Homo sapiens: one gene and its partners. The protein of the gene in region 2 purifies or fractionates together with the protein of the main gene of each other region. This does not show direct contact. Each region holds a gene or a part of one and is shown on either strand. Other genes may lie near its edges.

The links.
Region 1: the proteins of HRG (region 2) and CRTAP purify together in Homo sapiens (affinity purification with mass spectrometry; one large-scale study listed by BioGRID and IntAct). This does not show direct contact.
Region 3: the proteins of HRG (region 2) and FBN2 purify together in Homo sapiens (affinity purification with mass spectrometry; one large-scale study listed by BioGRID and IntAct). This does not show direct contact.

What each region holds. Positions count from the first base shown.
Region 1 is NC_000003.12:33,120,514-33,124,171, reverse strand, and holds part of CRTAP (cartilage-associated protein isoform 1 precursor), read right to left. Parts: intron 1-3,658. UniProt on the Homo sapiens protein: Necessary for efficient 3-hydroxylation of fibrillar collagen prolyl residues.
Region 2 is NC_000003.12:186,672,408-186,676,065, reverse strand, and holds part of HRG (histidine-rich glycoprotein precursor), read right to left. Parts: intron 3,280-3,658; coding exon 3,199-3,279; intron 978-3,198; coding exon 876-977; intron 1-875. UniProt on the Homo sapiens protein: Plasma glycoprotein that binds a number of ligands such as heme, heparin, heparan sulfate, thrombospondin, plasminogen, and divalent metal ions. Binds heparin and heparin/glycosaminoglycans in a zinc-dependent manner.
Region 3 is NC_000005.10:128,259,774-128,262,349, forward strand, and holds part of FBN2 (fibrillin-2 precursor), read right to left. Parts: intron 2,135-2,576; coding exon 1,963-2,134; intron 57-1,962; coding exon 1-56.

The DNA of each region.
Region 1 (3,658 bases), about 150 Mb from region 2:
TAATCTGAATTAAGGAAAATGGGAAAACTATGACAGAGATCAGATCAGTGGCTGCCAGAAGTCAGGGGTTACAGCAAAAACTTGACTACAAAAGGACAAGAGGAAATTGTTCAGGGGTGATGAAAATATTCTATGTCGTAACTATGATGGCAGTTACAGGACTGGATGTATTTGTCAAAACTTACTGCATTATACACTTAAAATTGATAAATATATTGTATATAAATAGTACCTCAATAAAACTGGTTTTTAAAATGGAACGAAAAGAAAAATGTAAGTTTGAGAGCAGGTATATTAGTCTGTTCTCACATTGCTATAAAGAAATACCTCTAGCATGGCCAATATAGGGAAACCCCATCTGTACTAAAAATATAGAAATTACCAGGTGTAGTCACATGCTTGTAGTCCCAGCTACTCACGAGGCTGAGGCACAAGAATCACTTGAACCTAGGAGGCGGAGGTGGCAGTAAGCTGAGATTGTGCCACTGTACTCCAGCCTGGGTGACAGAGCGAGACTCTGTCAAAAAAAAAAAAAAAAAAAAAAAACCGAGACTGGGTAATTTATAAATAAAAGAGGTTTAATTGGTTCATGGTTCTGCAGGCTATACAGGAAGCATAGCAGCTTCTGCTTCTGGGGAGGCCTCAGGAAACTTACAATCACGGCAGAAGGCAAACAGGGAGCCGGCACTTCACATGGCCAGAGAAGAAGGAAGAGAGCGGGGAGGTGTTACACACTTTTAAACAACTAGGTCTCATGATAACTCACTCACTATCATGAGAATGGCACAGAGAGGATGGTGCTAAACCATTAATAAAGGATCCACTCCCATGATCCAATCACCTCCCACCAGGCCCCACCTCCAACCCTGGGGATTACAACTGGACATGAGATTTAGGTGGAGACACAGATCCAAACCATATCAGCAGGTGTCTGTCACCCCACTTCCTCCGACAATGCAGTTAAACAGAAGTGCCACCATGCATCAGCACTAGTTACTAGGAAGGGCAACCACATGCCAGATAGTGGAAACTTCAAGGACTTTCTGCTAATTGTTGATTAGACTCGATTAGAAGAGAAATAACAGGAGGCTGAGGCAGGAGAATCATTTGAACCCAGGAGGTGGAGGTTGCAGTAAGCCAAGATCGTGCCGTTGCACTGCAGCCTGGGCAACAGGGCGAGACTTCATCTCAAAAAAAAAAGAGAGAGAGAAATAAACTAGGACCAAGGAAGTAGCTTGGTCTCCAAGAAATAAGTAGAGATCCTGGATACACACAAAACCTGCTAACTTGCAGAGGCCAGGACAGGCCCTGAATAAGCATGGGACCCTCCATTTGGAGTTCTCAGCTGCTCTGGAATGGTGGTATCTGAGGGCACCCCTTAGACCTAGAATTTTCACCAAGCTTAAGGCCTCAGGTAAAGACAGTGGATTTTCTTCTTCTTTTTTTTTTTTTTTTTTTTTTTGAGACAGAGTCTTGCTCTGTTGCCCAGGCTCGAATGCAGTGGTGCAATCTCAGCTCACTGCAACCTCCAACTCCTGGGTTCAGGCAATTCTCTCTGCCTCAGTCTCCCGAGTAGCTAGGATTACAGGTGCCTGCCACCACGCCTGGCTAATTTTTTTGTATTTTTAGTAGAGACAGGGTTTCACCATCTTGCCCCAGCTGGTCTTGAACTCCTGACCTCGTGATCCACCCACCTTGGCCTCCCAAAGTGCTGGGATTACAGGCATGAGGACCGCGCCTGGCCGAGGGTGGATTTTCTTAAACCTCCTGGGCAGGCCACATGCCCTGGAAATAAGACAGGCTGAGAACTGAAGGAGCCTTTCCTGAAGAATGGGTCAATAAGTAGCCAACTCCAGACAGCTGGTTCTGCAGAAGCAGCGGGGCAGCAGCAGCAGCAAGAAGGACCAAGCAGAAAGAGGAGGCCCCTGATCACACAGGAGGGCAGCACAGCCACCCCAAAAGGGCTCCAGTGAGGGCCAACAGGACTAGCTGAATTCCAGATAAGCCCAGGGCACTGACCACACGCACTCGGCTTCGTTCCCCAAACCCTATGAAAACAACAGTGAAGACTATGAAAGGCATAAATTGCTTTTATGGGAGAATGGGAAGGGAGCAAGCAGCAGATGAGATTTCAACAACTTTTGGAAAGGCAGGAAGTGAAATAGTCACAAAGGAGGGGCCAGAGGGGAAGCAAGCTATATGTCCCATTGGCATGCGCAGGCATGAGGGACCACGGGAGGCTGGGGTAAGGCATGGAGCTAGAAGCAGGGCTGCAAGTTTGAACAGGCTGTTGGGGTCCTGGGTCCGCTCCCAGCACCTACCCACCCACCCAAGAGATCATATCTCCCAAAGCCACTCTTCACCAGAGAGTGGCAGTTTATTCTAGAGACTTTACCCATAAAGGCTGAGGAGTCAGGGACCAGACGTAGCAGAGGCCAAGTGGAGGCATGAGGCTAAAATCAGGAAGCAGGTGAAGTATTCCTACTCACCTGGGTGACCCTGTCCCTCTCCCCACACTGGTTCTCAGACACCAGCAGAGGAGTATGCGCACCCCACCAGCCCTGCAGAAGGCTGGTGAAGTCTTCCCTGGAAAACTGACAGATACCCCCAAAAAGAGACTTCCACACATACATTTTCCCTAGCAGTCAAAAAGTGAGCCTGAGATCTGATCACTCTACAGAAAACCCTGTGGTCAGGCCTTGGGAACTATAACTTCTAGTGGATATTTTCCACATATCCCCATTTTCTTTCATTTTTTTTGAGACAGAGTCTCGCTCTGTCGCCCAGGCTGGAGTGCAGTGGCGCAATCTCAGCTCATTGCAACCTCTGTCTCCCGGGATGAAGTGATTCTCCTGCCTCAGCCTCTCGAGTAGCTGGGTTTACAGACATGCTGAGTCACCACGCCCAGCTAATTTTTGTATTTTTAGTAGAGACGGGGTTTCACCATATTGGCCAGGCTGGTCTCAAACTCCTGACCTCAGGTGATCCATCCGCCTCGGCCTCCCAAAGTGCTGGGATTACAGGCATGAGCCACTGTGCCCAGCCAAATTCCCATTTTCAACAATGCCCTGCCCTTGCTTGAAACCCAGGCCCCCAGTGCCTGAGTTCCAGAAGACCTTGACAATAGTGAGTGCTCAAAAGGGCGAGATCGTTCTTTCTTATTGTTGTTCTTACGACTAATTCTCATCAAAACTCTTCTTCGTAGATGCGCAGATTTAAGTGTCCTCTACTCTGTCACATCAGCCTTCCTAACTCGTCTTCATTTTCTACCTTAATATATTTAGGGTGCGTTTGTGTGCAAGTGTGTATAAAAATATATGCCTTCTCATTTCATCAAAACTGGAGATTTATGTTTCTATTTCTTGTGTTCCTGGTCATTTTAGATGATTTCCAAGATATGTCTTTAATCTACCCTCTTAAAACTAAATAATTAAATGACCATATTTCTAAAATGTAGCATTTAAAGGGAACATGGCTTTTAAAATCATCACGGCATACAAAATATCATTATTAAATGGATCACTTTGTGCTAAAAGTCAATCATTTCTATTGTCATAATATTCAGCAAATGTCACCAAAAATCACTAGAGGTCCTTAGCTATCAGCAGCTGCTTATGGAGAGACATTTCTTTAACAGTCCAGGTTGCCACTAACTGCC
Region 2 (3,658 bases):
GAAACCCCTTCTCTACTAAAAATGCAAAATTAGCCAGGTATGGTGGCGCATGCCTGTAATCCTAGCTACTCAGGAGGCTGAGGCAGGAGAATCGCTTGAACCCAGGAGGCAGAGGTTGTGGTGAGCCGAGATGGCACCATTGTATTCCAGCCTGGGCAATAAGAGCAAAACTCCTTCTCAAAAAAAAAAAAAAAAAAAAAGACAGAGCCATGTTCATGGTGACAATCCTGCCCTTTGTTCCTTTTTCTTTTTTTTAACTTGGGATTGGATGTTTGGATTATTTTAAGTTTTGTTTCTGATATGAAAAATTTCGTGAAGCAAATCTTTGTACTCATGTAAAAAATAGACCAAAGATTTCTGAGACAGATGCAAAATATGGTTTTGCATCTTATTTTATATACATTTACATAATAAATTTGAGGCTGATATATTCCTCTTAGATTCTATGCCCAATAATATAAGCTTAGGAATGACTAAGTCTCAGCACTAGAGTCCCGACTACAAAGAGCATTTTCAAATTCCTTCAAGTTTGGTTGAATTGGACATGATTTTAATTTTCTGCCAATTGTTACCCCTCTTCAATTCTTGGAAAAGTTTTCATACTTTTTGTGTAATCTGGCAATTGCACTCCTTTCCCCAGTTGTGGGATACTCTCTGTATCTTTTTTCTTGCATGTCTGTCTGTCTCTCTCTTTCTCTCTCTCCCTGTCTCCCTCTCTCTGTCTCTGTCTCTGTCTCTCTCTCTCTCTCTCTCTCTCACACACACACACACACACACACACCCACTCATAGAGCTTTAGGAAGCAACAACACTATTTGTGTACGTATGTCACTTAATCTGGCACTGCCATGACAAAGTCTGCTTAGACAACCCACCTGAGGGTCGAAGACTTCACAGTTTATGACAAGGTTTTTCGGGCTTTCCAAGTCCAAGGCTTCTACATCATAGAACAAATCTGCTCTGCAGAATCCAAAGACCTACAAAGGAATGAGGAGCTGTTAGTGTGTGTGTCCAGGTGGTGTGAAGATGACCAGCCAGAGTTAGCTTCCAGACATTCAGAAAAGGAAGAAGTGCTTTAGAAAAATCAGGGTAATATGATCAGATATTCCCACCAGTCGTTCAGCAATCTTTCCTTGTTAACACTTTGGGGAAAGTGCAGGTGGTGAAGGGTATCACTAAAGTTGCTGTGGTTTTTTTCATGAGCAGGCACCAGCACTGGGCTTCCCCATGGGTGATGGAAATGATGAGGAAAACCACATCATTGCTGCCTTGCCTTTAGGCCAACCCTTCTGCACTGGAGACCTCAGTTGCCTGTGCCTAGGACAATGAGGAATGGTGTCAAAGAGGGATTTTTACAACTTCAGCTGGTCCCTTGGAGGAAAGTGTTGGACAGGAGGGCATCTGTATAGCATAAAGATGGGTTTTCATGGACATTGTCAAGGCAAGTGTCTGCTGACTCCACCCAAGTGCCAGGGCTACAACTGGCTGCCACTCCTGTGCTCCAGATGCTCCTAAACCCACCTGTGAAAGATCGACTAGGACAAGAGGACGGCTGTCTGCTAGAAGAAATTGCTAAGCATTGAGGTTCTGAGTACAGTTTGGGAATCAGAGAGACCTATGTTAATCCTGGCTTCTCCATTTCCTAGTTGTCTGAGTTTGGGAAAGTTACAAAAGATTTCTGAAAGTCAGCCATTGTAAAATGGGGATAATACTATGTACTCACAGGTTGTGGGAGGGATTAATTAAACAAGAGGATGCTGTAAAACACTTACCCCTGAGCCTCCTCTTCAGCTCTGGTGCTTCAACTCTGGGTTTACATTATCCACACCAAGATCATGAAGGGTTTGTTGGCCATAGGAGTAGGGGAGGGAGGTGTCTTTTCTGGTGGGCGCTAAGAAGGTTTCTAGACCTGGTTCAGTGTGGACATTAGAAGAGCTAACAAAGGTACTAATGGATGGTTTCTCCCTTTTGACCAGGGAGAATGTGTTGTTAAACCTCAGAAAAATCCTGGACTTGGCATCATAATTAAAATTCCATTTCCTAACACTCTCTAGCTAAGTGCCTTTAGGTAAGTGGTTTTAATTTCAGGTCCCCTTGTCACAGGAAATGTAGGCAGATACTTGCTTTTCCTTGTCAGCAGGATTTTCATGAGGCTCTCCTGGCAATAACAGATGTGGAGGTGTTTCTTTAACTGTAGGTCACCATGCAAATGCCAGGTGGTATTAATAATGTCTTCTGGCAGGTACATGGGAATCTATTTGTAAATGATTAGAGGAAAAATCCCACTGGACTTTGTATGAGAATAACTAAGTTTTAATCTCAGCTTGGTTGTGAACATCGGCAAGACCTTTCCTTTGCTGATTTTCAGTTACCTCCTCATTTGTCAAGTGGGATTCCTGTGAGTGTGATGATGTGGAATTAATAAAACCACTTGGCGTAGGGTCTTAGTACGAACTGCTATAGTTCTAACTAAGCCTTTAATCCTAATCAGTTAGAAACTTAGTTTTAAGTTTAGGTATATATCATGTATATTATAAAATCATGTTCTTATGGTTCGCTTATGTTCTCTGTGCCTCAGTTCCCCTATCTGCTAATTTGGGATTAAAAATGGTATCTATCTCATATGGTAGTGTGAGGGTTAATAAGTTATCATAGGCTGGGCATGGTGGCTTGCGCCTGTAACCCCAGCACTTTGATTTGTAATCCCAGCCGAAGTGGGTGGACACCTGAGATAAGGAGTTTGAGACCAACCTGATCAACATGGTGAAACCCCATCTCTACTAAAAATACAAAAATTAGCTGGGCGTGGTGGTGCATGCCTGTAATCCCAGTTACTCCGGAGGCTGAGGCAGGAGAATCGCCTGAACCCGGGAGGCGGAGGTTGCAGTGAGCCGACACTGTGCCATTGCACTCCAACCTGGGCAACAAGAGCGAAACTCCATCTCAAAAACAAAACAAAACAATAAGTTATCTGATGTGTAAATCACTTAGAAGAGTGCCTGGCAGGTACTAAGTGCTTCCCAGATGATACTTTGTATTTCACAGACATTTCTTCCTCCTTCTCCTCCTCCTCATTTTCTCCTTCTCATTCCTCTTCTCCTTCTTCTCCTTCCTCTCCTTCTCCTTCTCCTTCTCCTTCTTCTCTTTCTTTTTTCTCTGTGACTCTAGTCAACGATCACAGACATTTCTTATACTCACATTGGGGTGTCTGGGGAAATGGTGTCTGGGGCAGTTCCGCACAGAGAAGTCCACGAAGTAACCAGTTCCTTCCCCTCCTCTCTAGAACAGATGGGATCAAAATAGTTTCAAGAACAGACAAAGAAAAAGGAAAAAAAAGCAGTAGATAACTACCATTCAATATTTTTTAAGGCAGTATGAGAATTCAAAATCACCAGTATGTGTCATTTTTTAAAATGGTTTCTGCCTTTTAAAAATGTATCACCTAAGTGATAAGGTGAATACCAGTTCACTGAAAAGGTTCAAATAATAAATATATGATAAAGTAGAGTGTGAAAAATCACCTCTCCTGCACTCCAACTTCTTCCCAGAGTTTTCATTCTCATTTATTTGATGTGTTTCCTCTTCGAGTGTTTTCCTAGATGTGTTACACATACACAGGGAGATCTAAGTGTTTCATATAAATGGGTCCATAGTCTAA
Region 3 (2,576 bases), on a different chromosome or scaffold from region 2:
AACTTCATGTTGACGGGGCTGTCCATGTCGACACTCTCTAGGCTGATCTGTTCAACCTGGAGGAAGAACAGGAAATGATTTGGGACAAGCTTCTACAGCACAAGCAGAGGACTAGAAAGAGATCAGCTGCAGGGGCTTTGGTCACGAGGACAGGCTGTGGCTTCCCACTCCCGCTTTCTGCACTCTCCTTACCAGCAGTGGCTGTGAAAGAGGCTATTGTACATTTTTGTCAGTTGGAAGAAAAGGCCAATTCCATCGAGAATACCCTGTAAATCTTTAGGACTTCTCACTCAGCCTTAACAAGGTAATTAAAGGTACAGGACTGGGCTTACAGAGTGTTCCCATTTCAAGTTTTTTTTGATGAGTTTATGAAATATTGTGCTAATTAATAATTTTTAAAAACTAAAATTTAGGTAATGATTTTTTTTTTTCTGGAGTCAAAATAAGAAGTACTGCTGTTGGGCATCAGCAGGGAATGCGCCCAGGGGAATCTTCTGTCTGAAAGCTGGGCTTTGATTTGTAAGGTAAGTGAATGATGAGTGAGTTTACTGGGAGCTATCAGAGGTACACAGAGTGAGTGATCTGCAGAGTTCTCAGGGCTCCAGTTCAAACCAGCATCTTTGGTAAAAGCCAGTGGGGCAGGGCCCAGATAAACCAAGTCTGACTTTTGCTCAGAGGGTTGGGAGGAGCACAAATATATCAAAGTAAGATAGGATAAAAACCACAATGCTTTGATTGGGCATCTGTTAAGTGAGGACTTGGCAGTGGTGACCCAGAAGTGCCCATCAGTGTTCAGGCAGAATTATGTCCTAGTACCCCAATGGGAAAGTTTATAAGCAGAACTTCTGGATTTGTAGTTTGGGAACTTGATGAATATCTCAACTGTCAAACATCAGTTGGGTATCTTAGTCTACTTAAGGTAAATGTAACACTGGCTTATTTATTATTATAAAATAGCATCATGAACTTTTTGGCTAGACAAGTCAGGTCATATAGACAAAGATTCTGAGGCCCAAAAAACTGAAGCAAGTTGTCCAATTCACACAGCCAGCCAGTTGTTGATTAGGTTTTTTGGTGGGGTAATTTCTCAGTCATATTAACTGCAGAGAGTGGTGAGTGACGACCTCATACTGTCTCAGATCTTTGGGAAAATCATCAAGATCTCTAGATATGAGATATTAATCATTCATAGGAACTGAACACATGTGATATATATGTCAGGCATTGTTCCAGGCAGTTCACATGTTTCAATTCAATTAACCCTTCCATCAGCCTTCAGAGGTATTATTATTCCCATCTTACAGGTGAAAAAACTGAGGTTGAGAGAAGTTAAATAAACACAAACTATGTAACAGAGGTAACAGATAGGGAGGGCCAGGGAGTTACGTTCAAAACCAGGTAGTCTGCAGCCCACCCCTTTAAACACTGCCAAAATGCAATTAGGGAAAGGAAATATCAGTGGCTCGCAATTTCCAACTTCAGTTCCTTAAAGAATACAAGTGATTTGGAAGACAAAACTTCTTAATGAAGGAACAACTGTCTTAAAAATAAAACAAAGAATATGAGACCTACTTGGTTTCCCTAGTGAAAATTAAAATCAGCCTTGTATGCTATACATTTATAAAACAGAACTGAACAAATTAAAAATAATTTCATTTTTTGAATCATGTAAAAATAGCTCTTCCCGAGATGGACATACCCTCCCACATAAATCAAAAACTACAACAAGAGAAAATGCTCTGAAACTGTGAATCTTAAAGTCTTTTCTCCCAAGCTTTGTGTTTTGATCTAATAATTCAATCACTTTAATTTACTTGTCTTTTCCATACTGGGTCCATTAATTTATCCATTAAATTCAAGGTATGATTAACTTCAGTGAGGCTGAAAACGACGTGAACTGCACTGTATACATGACTCCGTAGGGATAAAATTTTGTGGCAACACAGAGTGGGATATACTCACAGCAGTGGGATCAGGTTCATGAATACTTCTCTTCTGCCTGCTGTCTTTCTTAGAATAGCCGTTGATTTTGCACTCGTAGCATGCTTCTGGGGACAGAGCATTTTCCTCATCGACCTCTGTATCCAGTGACAGGTACTGCCCCTTGTTAAATCCCATTCCTGAGACACAGTGGCTATTTGCAAAAAGCAAAGTATTGTTAGACTTTATCACTGACTTGACCATAGTTTTCCAGTGGTAGAGCAGACTCTTCAGAAACACGAAACCAACAGAGCAAACACTAAACTCATAAACATAAAACCCTAATATTCTTTGCAACTCTTTTATTTTTCTTTTAGAGACAGGGTCTTGCTCTGTTTCCCAAGCTGGAGTACAGTGGCACGATCTTGCTCACTGCAGCCTCAAACTTCTGGGCTCAAGAGCTCCTCATGCCTCAGCCTCCAAATTAGCAGGGACAACCGGCACACACCACCACATCCAACTAATTTTTTTTAATTTTCATGTTTTGTAGAGATAGGGTCTTGCTATGTTGCCCTAGCTGGTCTCCAACTTCTGCCTTCAAGCGATTCTCCTACCTCGGACTCCCAAAGTACTGGGATTGCAGGGATGAGCCACAA